3 separate regions of the Homo sapiens genome follow, and regions 2 and 3 are each linked to region 1. Evidence: fine-mapped expression QTL. A gene starts in region 1. Each other region holds a variant in brackets. All regions are shown on one strand. Distances are between the middles of the regions.

Region 1 (4,250 bases):
AAACTTCTAGACCCGATAGCCATAATCAAGATGTCTCCAGAAAGCTGTTAGCACAAAGCACATATCCTGAAACCATTTGCCTCAGCTCTAATCTGCAAATAAAATAAGTAATAGTTGGACAAATCTGTCAGTAAGCATTTCTGGTTTTGCTTTAGTCTTCAGTTTAAAGAGCATAAAGCAAAGCCAGTGCATTTGTTTATGTTATAATAGTGGCCATCATTTAGAACTATGTATTAGACAGCTAGCATACAATTATTGATTCACAAATTGACAGCTGAGCGCCATGGTTCATGCCTGTGATCCCAGCACTTTGGGAGGCTGAAGTGGGAGGATCACTTGAGTTCAGGAGTTCTAGACCAGCCTGGGCAAGATGGTGAAACCCTGTCTCTACAAAAAGTATAAAAATTAGCGGGTATGGTGACGTGCGCCTATAGTCCCAGCTACTCGAGAGGCTAAGGTGGGAGGATCGCTTGAGCCTGGGAAGCAGAGGTTGCAGTGATCCTAGATCACTCCACTGTACTCCAGCCTGGGTGACGGAGTAAGACCTTGTCTCAAAAAAAAAGAACATAAAAAAAAAAAAAATTGGCCGGGAGCAGTGGTTCATGCCTGTAATCCCAGCACTTTGGGAGGCCGAGGCAGGCAAATCACTGGAGTCCAGGAATTCGAGACCAGCCTGGCCAACATAGCGAAACCCTGCCTCTACTAAAAAATACCAAAAAAAAAAAAAAAAATTAGCAGGGCGTGGTGGCACGCACCTGTAGTCCCAGCTACTCCGGAGGCTGAGGCTGGAGAATTGCTTGAACCCGGGAGACAGAGGCTGCAGTGAGCTGTGTTCATGCCACTGTACTCTAGCCTGGGCAACAGAGCGAGAGTCTGTCTCAAAAAAAAATTTTTTTTTTAATTAAAAATCACAATTACATTCTGTTTTAAACTTGGTGACTGTTTTTTTTTCTCCTTTGAAGTTGGTTAGTACATTACAATGTCATTCACTATATAAGGCTATTTACTGATATTTTTTAAACTACCTGTTTGATATGTTAAGAATTGCTTGTGAAGACAAGAAACAAACCACTGTGTTTACATAGGGGATTAATTTCCCAGTGGGCATTACTTGTGACCCATGTGCTATATTGAAGTGGTCACAATAGTTTTGTAATAGTAGATAGTGTTTTTTAAATGTTGTTACTTGGCAAATCCTATTCACAAGTTCAAAAACCTAGTATTAGTGCATTGTACCCCCGCACCACCACCTACTCCTGCAGTTTTTTTTCAACTGGCTCATGTAGGAGTACTGGACCCAGAGGGCAGGACCCAACAGATTCCACTGTGACTCCAGATGAGCAGAAGCTTTTAAAATGCAGTTTGGGTATGTTTGTGAAAATATCACATTGCTATGTTGAAATACATACCTATTTGGTAATAGTCGCAACCTTTCACCGTTTTTAGTTTGACTTGATAATGACTGAATCTATTCAGGGCATGCTTCAAAATTGCATTAACTGCTGTATAAAAAATGAAAATTGAAAACATATTACTTTGGAAATAATACTATTAATAGTGTGTTAGGTTTTGTTACAAATTTAACTGTGTCCCTAGAAACACATTTTAAAAAATTATTATTTGAACTAAAGCATATTTTGCTTTCTCTCTTATCTAATATTCACCTTATTTACTTCTGAAACACCAAACTTAAATGTTATATGGTCTGGTAATACTATAAAATAGTAATAATATAATAAAGAAAAGACAGTAATTTAAAATAGGGAGACAGCATAACTTAAAGTCAATAAGTTATAATTTATAATACATTAGAAATAAAATGTATTGCATATGAAAATAACTTTTAATTCATGCAAGTAGATCTGCAAAATCTTGATGGCAGTATCCAAATGCAGTATCAACAATGTGACTATATTGACAGTAGGAGCTTAAATACCTTGAATGTCTTAAAGTACTTAAAGTAACTAAAAAGACAGTCTCATTTGAAATCAAGGCAGAGGTGTCATTCAAGCAATTTACTCAGTAGTTCTAAAAGCGAATAACTGCTGACATTAGAGTAGCCTTATCACCATGAATCACGTTTCACTTTGAATGTTCAGATAATCAAATTTTAGCTGAAATAAAGGTTCATTTATGTAGCCGAAATCAAGAAATACTCACAGTTCAGGTTCGCCTGAAGTAAAAGGAGCAGAACCCCAAGCTTCCCTAGACACTGAGACTCGTCTTGGTTGTGTCAGCTGGGCTCTTCCATCCGGTCGTGGTGCAATTGGTTGGGGTTCTCTTCTTTTTTATGTTCATATGTGGTGGTAGGGTTTTTTTTTTCCCCCTCTTTTTTTTTTTCTTTTTTCGGTATGACAACTCTCAGATTCCTTTTGAAAATATTAAAAAGCCCTACTACCATGGAACAACTTTAAGCTCAACCAACACTGAACTTTAGGAAATTATTTATATCTTCTTTATGAATACCTTCCAACTTGACAATTGTGGAATGTTTTCCTCCCCCCGCTCAAAATTTAAAAGTTTTATAAATTCTAAGCAGAAATATGTATTTTCTGTGTTTTGTAAGAAATGATACATAATATGCTATATGGACTTTCAAAGCACAAGCACTGAATTTCTGTTTCTTAAGTTTTCATCTGTACATTATTTTAGCATATTTTCATGTATTCCTTTAAGACCTTTGCTAAAACAAACTTGTATTATTAGGACTAGATGAGATTTCTGATGGTGTTCTCCCCTTTTGATCACTATGATAAACTCTCCCGAGCAAATTAAAACATCACCTGTATTTTAAGCGAAATAATGATGGGATTCTGCAGTCTTGGTTTTGATCCTAGTCCAAAATTTAACCACTATCTGTCCATCTATGTAACTGCTGGCCCTGCAGTTTAGTGTTATTTCCCTTTTTTTGTTGTCATTTGAAATGAAGAAGTTAGTTTTTATTCTCCCCATAATTGTTATCCTGCAGCTTGTTTGCACTAAATATTTGACTCATTGGGCTGTATCTAACATTCTAATTATTTCTGGGTACACTCTTCTGAACATTATATTCTCCAGAGCTTTTTGTTTGTTATAAATATGATTTATGGGACAGGATATTTTTAAATTAATAGAATAAAAATGTTTTGTAGCTCTTACTTCCCCTTAGAACCTCTGAGAAGGAAGGTGGTTGCTGTATTAGTCCTGCAATATTGTTGTATTGGCAGGATTTTATTTTATTGTGGTACAATATGTAACATTAAATTTACCATCTTAACTTTTTTTTTTTTTTTTTTTTTTGAGACGGAGTTTCGCTCTTGTTGCCCAGGCGACAAGAGATTGTACAATGGCACAATCTCGGCTCACTGCAGCCTCCACCTCCCAGGTTCAAGCGATTCTCCTGCCTCAGCCTCCCAAGTAGCTGGGATTACAGACATGCACCACCATGCCCGGCTAATTTTGTATTTTTAATAGAGACAGGGTTTTGCCATGTTGGCCAGGCTAGTTTCAAACTCCTGACCTCAGGTGGTCCACCCACCTCAGCCTCCCAAAGTGCTGGGATTACAGGTGTGAGCCATTGCGCCCAGCCCCATCTTAACCATTTTTAAGTATACAATTCAATAGTGTTAAGTATATTCACATTGTTGTGCAACAGTTTCTAGAAGTTTTTCATCGTGCAAAACTAAAACTCTTCACCACTAAACGATTTCTCTCCTCTCCCCCTGCCCTTGACAATCATGATTCTTTATGTTTCATTGATTTGGACTACTTTGGACACTTCATATGAGTGGAATCACACAGTATTTGTCCTTTTGTGACATGTTTATTTCACTTGGTGTCATATCCTCGAGGTTCATCTGCGTTGCAGCATGTTACAGGATTTCCTTCTTTTATCAAACTGCATTATATTCCACTGTATATGCACCACATTTTCCCTATGCATTCATCTGTTGATGGATTTTTGGGTTGCTTCCACCTCTTGACTAATGTGAATAATGCTGCAGTGAACATGAGTATGCATATATCTCTTCAAGATCCTAGCAGGAATTTTTTAATGACTAAATAGGCATTTAACTACGTGCATTCTATTTCATATAATCTAGCATGAATATATTTTTTTCTATATTATTTTCCTACACCTAAGACAACCCTTTTCAAAACACTAATTGTTTTAATCTTCAGTTTCCTCATATTGTGACCACATTTTCTCCTCAATGTGAGTCAGCACAGCTACCACCAGATTTGAGTATAATCTTTTTCTAGTTCTTTCT
Region 2 (4,250 bases), 100 kb after region 1:
GTGGACGAGCCACAAATCACCATTTCCCTAAAATGTTAATATAATGTTTTAAATAGAGCAGCATTTTACTAGTCTACTTATACTATTTATTTAATCTCTGATTTAGTAGTGCTTTCTTAATTAATACATCATTTAAAAAATTGTCCCTGCTCTATCTTCACATTGCTTTTGTTAGGCATTTTTATGTATGATGTGGCCCAAATATTTATAAGTCATAAAAATTTATCTTGCATTAGTATAAGCAAATCTGACTATAATCTGAAGAATGTTTATAGTCAGTATTTGACTTCTCAACTAGCATTGGTGTACAGAGTAGGTGAAGAAAAAAAAAAGAATAAAACCGACCACGAAAATCCCCACCTGTTTTAGAGAAGTTAGGAAATAAAAGTGTTCACAACAGCCGAGGTCATCTTTAACTTTTCACTTTTCAAAGCAGACTGTTGACTATGAAACACTTTATTTGAGGTAGAAATTAATATTTTAATTGTATTTCTAAAATAATTAAATGTATGTTCTTCAGAAAGCTGAACTTTGGATCATTTAGGTTTGTGGAATTTTAGAAATATATTTAGTTTCTTTCTTTTTTTTTTTTTTTTTTTTTTTTGGAGACGGAATCTCGCTCTGTCGCCCAGGCTGGAGTGCAATGGTGTGATCTCGGCCCACTGCAACCTTCACCTCTCAGGTTCAAGCAATTCTCCTGCCTCAGCCTCCCGAGTAGTTGGGGTTACAGGCGCCCACCACTATGCCCGGCAAATTTTTTTTGTATTTTTAGTAGAGACGGGGTTTTGCCATGTTGGTCAGGCTGTTCTTGAACTCCTGACCTCAGGTGATCCGCCCACCTTGGCCTCCCAAAGTTCTGGCATTATAGGCATGAGCCATCGCTCCCAGCGTATATTTGCTTTCTTTTCAGTGTCTTCTCCACTCTGAATTGGCAGAGTCAAAAGAAAAAAAGTTTATGTCCTTGACTTCCTGCTGAAGGATACCAGCACTGATTCTGTTAATGAACAGCCCTAGTAAAACAACCATAAGCCTTTGTGAGAACATTCCTTCCTAGAAGGAGTTGGGTTTGCCCTTTCCCAAGATTTAGGTTTCTGTGAAAATTCTTCCAGACGTGCCTTGGCCAGAAAGCATTCTTTCATTTTACTCCGTGTAGACGTGCCTTGGCCAGAAAGCATTCTTTCATTTTACTCTGTATTCATGCTATTGAAAGTTGCTTCTGTCAGAGGAAACAAACACTGTGATTGAGGAAATATTGATGAATTTTAAATGACAAGGAAATTGCCACATTGACAGAATTTTGGTCCATCTATTTAAAGATGATTTTTTGAAAAGATATGCATAAGACTCATATTCTGACAAGTTTCACAGAACAATTCAGAGGTTATTACCAAGAGGATCCCACTGAAATCATCAGCCTGCCTTTTTAAAAGAAAAATATTGTTTAGTGAAATAATAAATATGAAGCTCTGATTTTTAGCAAAGAATTGTGAGTGTTTACTGGATTTTCTTCTTTGCTTTTTAGCTGTATGACAAAATTAACACAAAGTCTTCACCACAAATCAGGAATCCTCCAAGCGATGCAGTACAGAGAGCCAAAGAGGTAAGTGATATATTTTATAGAAGTATTTGGCATCATCATATTTGCCACCTTTATTGAAGACATTTCTGTTGCACATTAAGAGGCAGTTTCCCTGGAGTCACAATTTGACTCATTATATTCAGATTTAGTATTTCTAAGTTTATTACTGAACATACAGAAAAGAAAAAAGATCTCTGCAGCAATATTGCCTAGATTTCTAGTTCTGGTTCTGCGATGTAAACTTGAATACATTACCATCAATTTTACTTCTCTTTTTCTGTTTTTTAAAAAAG[C/A]AAGTTATTTTACAACACTTGGTGGAAATAGACATGCTATAAAAATTTGAGTTGCTTTTTGAAGGTGGTAATGTTTGAAAGTTAATTAAATTTCTGTAGCAATTAAATATACTGAGTTCAAAGAAGTCATTTTTGTAAATTGTCAAGGTATGTGGCTATATCTGTCACAAACTTTTAAAAACCTATTTATGATAGAAATACAACATTGCAGAAAGTTTGGAAAATAAAAATAGATCCATAATCTCATCACCCTAACACAGTAGTTTCCATTTTTATATATCGTTTTCTAGTCACTCTCCATTTGCATATAAATTTTTTTATAGTTGTAATCAAAATGTGTCTTTTTTAACCTACCGTTATATAATAAGCATATTTCCATGTTTCTACTTGATCTTTACAAATATAACTTCTAATGACTGCAATATTTTTCTTTGCTGTTATTAAAGTATAACATATTAGCAATTCTCCCATTGTTAGACACATGGGTTTTTTTTTTTTTCATTTTTTGATCATGTCAGTCTTTGTGCAAATAAACATTTTTCTTTTAGAAAAATTATTTCTTATAAAGTGAAATTACTATGTGAAAGACTATGAAGGACATAATCCCTTCCCTACCAGATTTTAGACAGAAAGTCTGTACTGGAAGATGGTGTACGTTCACTGAGAAATGAGACCCATGCAGTGGAGGCTGCCCGGCCTGCCCACTTGGTCAGGACTAGCTTGGAGGGGTTGTCTCTGACTTCACCACCAAGGGCTCATAGAAGGGAATTAAGATATCGCTGATAGAGGCATGAATCACCACCCTGTCTTCACAATACGCAGATAGAAGCAGAGAGACTCTGGGGACAATTCTTTGGCTCAACTGGACAGTGAAAACCTGCTGGTTTCCCCCTAACCCTGCTTAGGTGGAAATACCACACCTCTGTATTTAAAAATAAACTAGGAGAGGAGCAAGGACCCAGAGAGAGTATGTGGTTTTGTCCTCTCATTTCACTAATAGAGAAACTCGGAGCATAAAATACACCAAGGATAATTGGTTTATCATCTTGAAACAATATGAATTAACAGCATAACCAGCACTCTAATGAACAGGGTATTCGGATAAGAAAGCTCTGTCATTTTTGCTTGTTTGTTTGTTCTTCCCTGAGGCAGTAGTTGAGTAGCACAGAACATTCTAGTTATGATGCTAAAATCTAAGGCTCGGGCCATGTGACCTCACAACATCCCCCTCCTGCCCCAGTAGGAAGCTTTTGTATGGTTTTCACAGGTTGAGGTGAGAGTCCTCCTGGATGGATGGTGGTATGATCCTGCCATCCAGTTGTGCCAAAGCAATCCTTTATTGGCTTAATGGTTGGAATTCAGTTGAGTGTAATGCAAACCTCTGAATCCAGCCATATGCAGTTAGAATAGCAGCAGGTGTTTACTCAGAAAAAGAACAGAGGCTTTTTCATGGGTTCATGTCCCATAAATAACTTACACAGGTAAACTCCATCCTGGTGGTAAAGGAGAACTTTTTAAAACAATTTTATTTGAAAACAATCAATTTTACCTGTGCAGAAAAATGTTAATGACTAATTAGTGAAGAAAATTTGAGTGGAAAGAGAAAATAAGGCTTTAAAAAATTGTTCTCTTAGGCTCCCTGGCATTTAACCCTAAGAGCCATTAGCAGAGGCATGACTTTCTCTGTGTGGGCAGATGACTATGGGGAAAAACATTGATCCGGCAGGCATTTTTGCATTTTCTACATTACTTAAAGAAAAATTACTTGTGTATTCTTAATTAAGTAGTCTAATTAATTAGTTCTGTTCTTGAAATCGTTTCTATTTGTGCCTGTGTCATTTTGACATTTCTAAAGGGAATTGGCAGTGCTGTTAATATAAAAGAAAACTTCTTATTAACTTTTTGTCCATATTGATTTTTATGGTGAGTTTGGAAAAGGATATTCAGAGATACTCTTCCGTTAAGTTTCATAAATCTGTAATAAATATATGTTGCAGCCTTGTCATTTTGCTTTATATTTTTCAATAACCTTTTAGGTTATAGTTGACAGACTTTTAGAACAATTTGCTTCATTTTTATTACCATCAATACTGTTCTTCTATGTATTAATAACATTTGAATAAAATGAAAAGTTTTTCAAAATAATTGTTTTGCCTGCCATAAAAATCCACTCATAATTTTTAACTTAAAAGAATTTAACATTTTGTAAATCTTGTGTCATGTTTGTATTATTGTATATCTTGTTTATTTTTTAGGTATTGGAAGAAATTTCATGTTACCCTGAGAATAACGACGCAAAGGAACTAAAGCGTATTTTAACACAACCTCATTTCATGGTAAGTAATAATTAAACTTCCATAGAACTGAAACCTCACTTT
Region 3 (4,250 bases), 57 kb before region 1:
CAAACTGGTGGGATAGGAACAGGTTATTCTGCCATTTTACTAGATCTTTGGGTTGCACATCAAATCTGGGATCTGGGGCTGATCACTCCACACTTGTTTAACCTACCTCAGGTTCACAACAATTTTCCCAGCTCTATGATCATCAGTGATTTCAAATTCACCAATGTAACCATGCTTCATCATCACAGTTAGAAACTGGACAGTAACTTTGGAGCACAACCTAATAAGAACCTGGTGTTTGCCTCTTTTTGGTATTGTTGATGCTCTGGATAGCATCAGCCAGGACATTCATGCACACCATTATGGCAGCATGGAGAGATGGCAGAAAGAGCCTAAATTCTTATTGCTTCATTATGCAATCAGTTTAGCTCTCTCCTTTTCCTAACCCCTCTCTCATCTAAGTTGAATCGTGCTTACCCTCATATATCACAATTACAAAGGAAAACGCCTAAGCAAAACTGATTCCTTCGCTATGAGATGTTTTTTAGTCCTCATAGATCAACTAACCAGCTTAAACTACAGCCAGTTTTTAAAATAGCGTTTCTTTTCTCCCCACAGGACAAAGAAATGAAAAATATTTACTCTCTGTAGTAATCAAGGAAATGCAAATTAAAGCAATCATGAATGACTTTTTTCCTCTTATCTAATTGGCAAAGATGGAAAAAAAATAATCATTATCCTAGTAGAGCAAGGGACACATTCACACATGGTAGTGGGAGTATAAATTGTTAAACTGTTTCTGGTCTTGTGTATGTATCAAAAGTGTTATTGTAGGCCGGGCGCAGTGGCTCATGCCTGTAATCCCAGCACTTTGGGAGGCCAAGGCGGGCGGATCACGAGGTCAGGAGATCGAGACTATCCTGGCTAACACGGTGAAACCCCGTCTCTACTAAAACAAATACAAAAAATTAGCCGGGCGTGGTGGCGGGCGCCTGTAGTGCCAGCTACTTGGGAGGCTGGGGCAGGAGAATGGCATGAACCCAGGAGGCGGAGCTCGCAGTGAGCCGAGATGCACCACTGCACTCCAGCCTGGGCGACAGAGCAAGACTCCGTCTCAAAAAAAAAATGCTATTGTATATACCCCTTGTCCTAGCAACTCAGCTTGTAGGAATTTTACCATACAGATAATCAGAGTTGCTCACCAAGATGCATGATCACGTTCATCCAGGCTTTATTTCTGATGGTGGAAAATGAGTGCTGCCATACTAGGGAGTAGACTAGACCATTATAATAATGTTTATAGTAGACTAGGCAACTATAAACATTATTTTGGAGAAGAATCCTATTTGACATTGGAAAATGTTCCTTAGGTGTGAAATGGAAACTTGGTAAAGTTTTTAGAGCCTGTATAAATGTGAAAGTATTTTCATTCATTTATATAAAACCACACCGAGAATCAAATAATAGAATCAACTGTTCATTAGGTGTCTACAGTGTGTCTTCTGCTGAGTATTAGGTAGGGGTACATTGAAAGTATAAATATATTTTTTCTTGTTCTTTAGGACTTTACACTATCATGGAACTGTTGTAGGGCTTAAAGATGTGCATTTGTTCCTTGCACACCCAGTAGGTATAGCTATAATCAATGGGAAGAGCACAGGACATAGCTAGACAGAGATTTCGATCTTGTCCCTATCACATACTTGTCCACTCACTTAGACAAATTATTTGAAAATGATGCTGACCTCATGGGGTGGTTATAAGTATGAAGGGAGGCATAACAAGGACTGCTTCCTATGATGCCTCATGAATAGGAAGTATGTTAGTTCCTTTACTTTCCCTTCCAGAAGTTTCTATTTCCTCAGTATAATATCTGCAGCAGGTATATTGGGAAACTGAACTACTGAATGAATGAATGAATGAATGAGATACTGGATTTAAAAATATGTTATAAGCCTTAAAGCATTATGAAAATGTTAGCT[G/A]TTAATATTTGCATAGTTTCATTAATATGTATAATATGGCAAAATTCATGTATACATATATAGGTGTATGTGGGGGGAGGGGGAGGTGTTTGTATGTGCTAAATGTTATGGACCATATAGAGTTGTTATAGAATGAAAAGCAAAGGAAGGCATTAATATGGCTGGTAATCATTGAGGGGGCTTCCAGGGAAGGTAGGATTGGAATGAAACCTTGAATTAAGGTAGGTTTTGAAAATGAAAAGCAATATATACAAAAGTAAAAAAGAAAATGGTGTACTCAGGGAGTGATAATAAGACCATTCTGCCTAGAGAGGAAGATTTTCTTGAAACATCAGTGGACAAGGTAGGTAGAAGAGGCAAGGTGTGGCCAAGACAACAAGAGGCCTTACTTATCTAGTAAGAAATAGAAAACTACTGTAAGTTCTAAGACAATATCGTGACATTGCGTTACCAACACATCTATGTGTTACAATATGTTTGTAGCGATGAACTTTGGGAATGGCAGTGTAAACAAAAATAAATTTTATTTTATATATGTCATTGTTTTTTCCTTCCACAGTATATAGCCTGAATTTTCCATTTAGTGGTAATAACAATAGCAAGATTGTTTTTTAAATCCTTGTATTCTACATAACTGAATATTTTTGGAATTTGACTTAAAAATATGCACACAACCCTAGCATTGCTGTTTTCTGATGCTTCTTTTTGTGAAAACCTAAAGAAAAATTATAGTCAATTTTATATACTCAATGTTATTTGATATTACTGTTAGCCTACTCTTCCTGTTTCTTTCCCTGCAGATTTTCAATGTGAAGATGACTGTCATGCCCTTTATAATTTATGTCTATATTTCATTGAAAGAAAGGAGATTTAAATAACATAACCCTTAGCAGTAAATCAACTAATAACTTAGTTACAATGTATTCACTTTCAGTGTTGTCTTCCTGGAATTTCCTCTTTTCTTATGTTCTTTTTCACATTTTTTTACAGTATGGATGGAGCAGATCTGTGTTTTGAAATCGTAAAGCGAGCTGACGCTGGTTTTGTGTACAGTGAAGCTGTAGCCAGGTATGTATTGTATATCTAATCACCAGAGGTCAAGTTGAAAATAAAAAAAGAAAATGACAAAGACATCACATGACAAACTGATAAAGAGCATGCTGCTGCTCTTTGCTACAGGGAACATCTCTGTTTTAGTATGTGTTAGTAGAACCGATAGTCACTGGAAATGCAAAATACCGAACAATGAGTTTATCTATTAACATGGGTTTATAGGGGCCAGGCACGGTGGCTCACGCCTGTAATCCCAGCACTGTGGGAGGCCAAGGTAGACAGATCACAAGGTCAGGAGATCGAGATCATCCTGGCCAACATGGTGAAACTCCTTCTCTACTAAAAATACAAAAATTAGCTGGGCGTGGTGGCATGCACCTGTAGTCCCAGCTACTCGGAAGGCTGACGCAGGAGAATCGTTTGAACCCAGGAGGTGGAGGTTGCAGTGAGCCGAGATTGCGCTATTGCACTCCAGCTTGGGCAACAAGAGCGAAACTCAGTCTCAAAATAAATAAATAAATAAAATGAAAACGTGGGTTTATAATACAGGCTTACATTTTCAGTACTGCTGTCTTTCCCATTTCTGATGATTTTTGTACAGGAAGCGGGGATCTAATAGCTCAGGAACCATGTAGAATTCTACTTGGGTTTTTTTATTTTTGTTTTGGCAAATCTGCCTCATTAGTTCTTCATTTTGCCTTTTAGTGATATCAAATTATCTCACAATAATTAAGGAAAAGTAAAGAACAGTAAAAGGAAGAGAAATAAAAGCACCATTTTTAAAAATATATTTGCTTCAGGCCAGTGTGAGACCTACCAATCAAATGGCAGCTGTTGTTCTAAGTGGAGAAGTTGTTTGTAAAGACCTAATGACTCAAAATAAGAAGGAAATATGGGCCGGGCGCGGTGGCTCATGCCTGTAATCCCAGCACTTTGGGAGGCCGAGGCGGGTAGATCACGAGGTCAGGAGATGGAGACCATCCTGGCTAACACAGTGAAACCCCGTCTCTACTAAAAATACAAAAATTAGCCGGGCGTGGTGGCGGGAGCCTGTAGTCCCAGCTACTCGGGAGGCTGAGGCAGGAGAATGGCATGAACCCGGGAGGCGGAGCTTGCATTGAGCAGAGATCGTGCCATTGCACTCCAGCCTGGGCGACAGAGCGAGACTCCGTCTCAAAAAAAAAAAAAAAAGAAGTAAATATGAAAAATCACAGGAGCCATGCACGTGCTGGGCCACTTGCTTATACATTTAGAGCAACACAGCTTTCTGTTTTG

Which allele goes with the higher level. Alleles are on the strand shown, and positions count from the first base shown. SD is a standard deviation of normalised expression in the study named.
For the expression in tibial nerve of the gene that starts at base 2,272 in region 1, allele A in region 2 goes with a lower level than allele C (small effect, 0.11 SD a copy in GTEx).
For the expression in spleen of the gene that starts at base 2,272 in region 1, G is the high allele of the variant in region 3 and A is the other (small effect, 0.16 SD a copy in GTEx).

Evidence for each region. PIP is the estimated chance that this variant, and not a neighbour inherited with it, causes the effect.
Region 2: its variant is the best candidate, but not a certain one, in a credible set for the expression of GPR34 in tibial nerve (GTEx, PIP 0.73).
Region 3: its variant is the best candidate, but not a certain one, in a credible set for the expression of GPR34 in spleen (GTEx, PIP 0.74).

The regions. Positions count from the first base shown.
Region 1 is chrX:41,686,995-41,691,244 of GRCh38, reverse strand. It overlaps GPR34 (G protein-coupled receptor 34), which reads right to left and starts at 2,272. Exons shown (of 3, transcript NM_001097579.2): 1 at 2,161-2,272; 2 at 1,410-1,502. All of the region lies in intron 5 of CASK (calcium/calmodulin dependent serine protein kinase), which reads left to right.
Region 2 is chrX:41,586,865-41,591,114 of GRCh38, reverse strand. CASK (calcium/calmodulin dependent serine protein kinase) reads left to right here. Exons shown (of 27, transcript NM_001367721.1): 13 at 1,523-1,600; 14 at 4,128-4,208. Among named protein-coding and RNA genes, the nearest start is that of CASK-AS1, 71 kb to the right of the region's middle. The variant C/A (reference allele first, on the strand shown) is at 1,873.
Region 3 is chrX:41,744,264-41,748,513 of GRCh38, reverse strand. It overlaps CASK (calcium/calmodulin dependent serine protein kinase), which reads left to right. Exons shown (of 27, transcript NM_001367721.1): 4 at 2,913-2,990. It also overlaps the pseudogene RPS15AP39. Among named protein-coding and RNA genes, the nearest start is that of GPR82, 22 kb to the right of the region's middle. The variant G/A (reference allele first, on the strand shown) is at 1,923.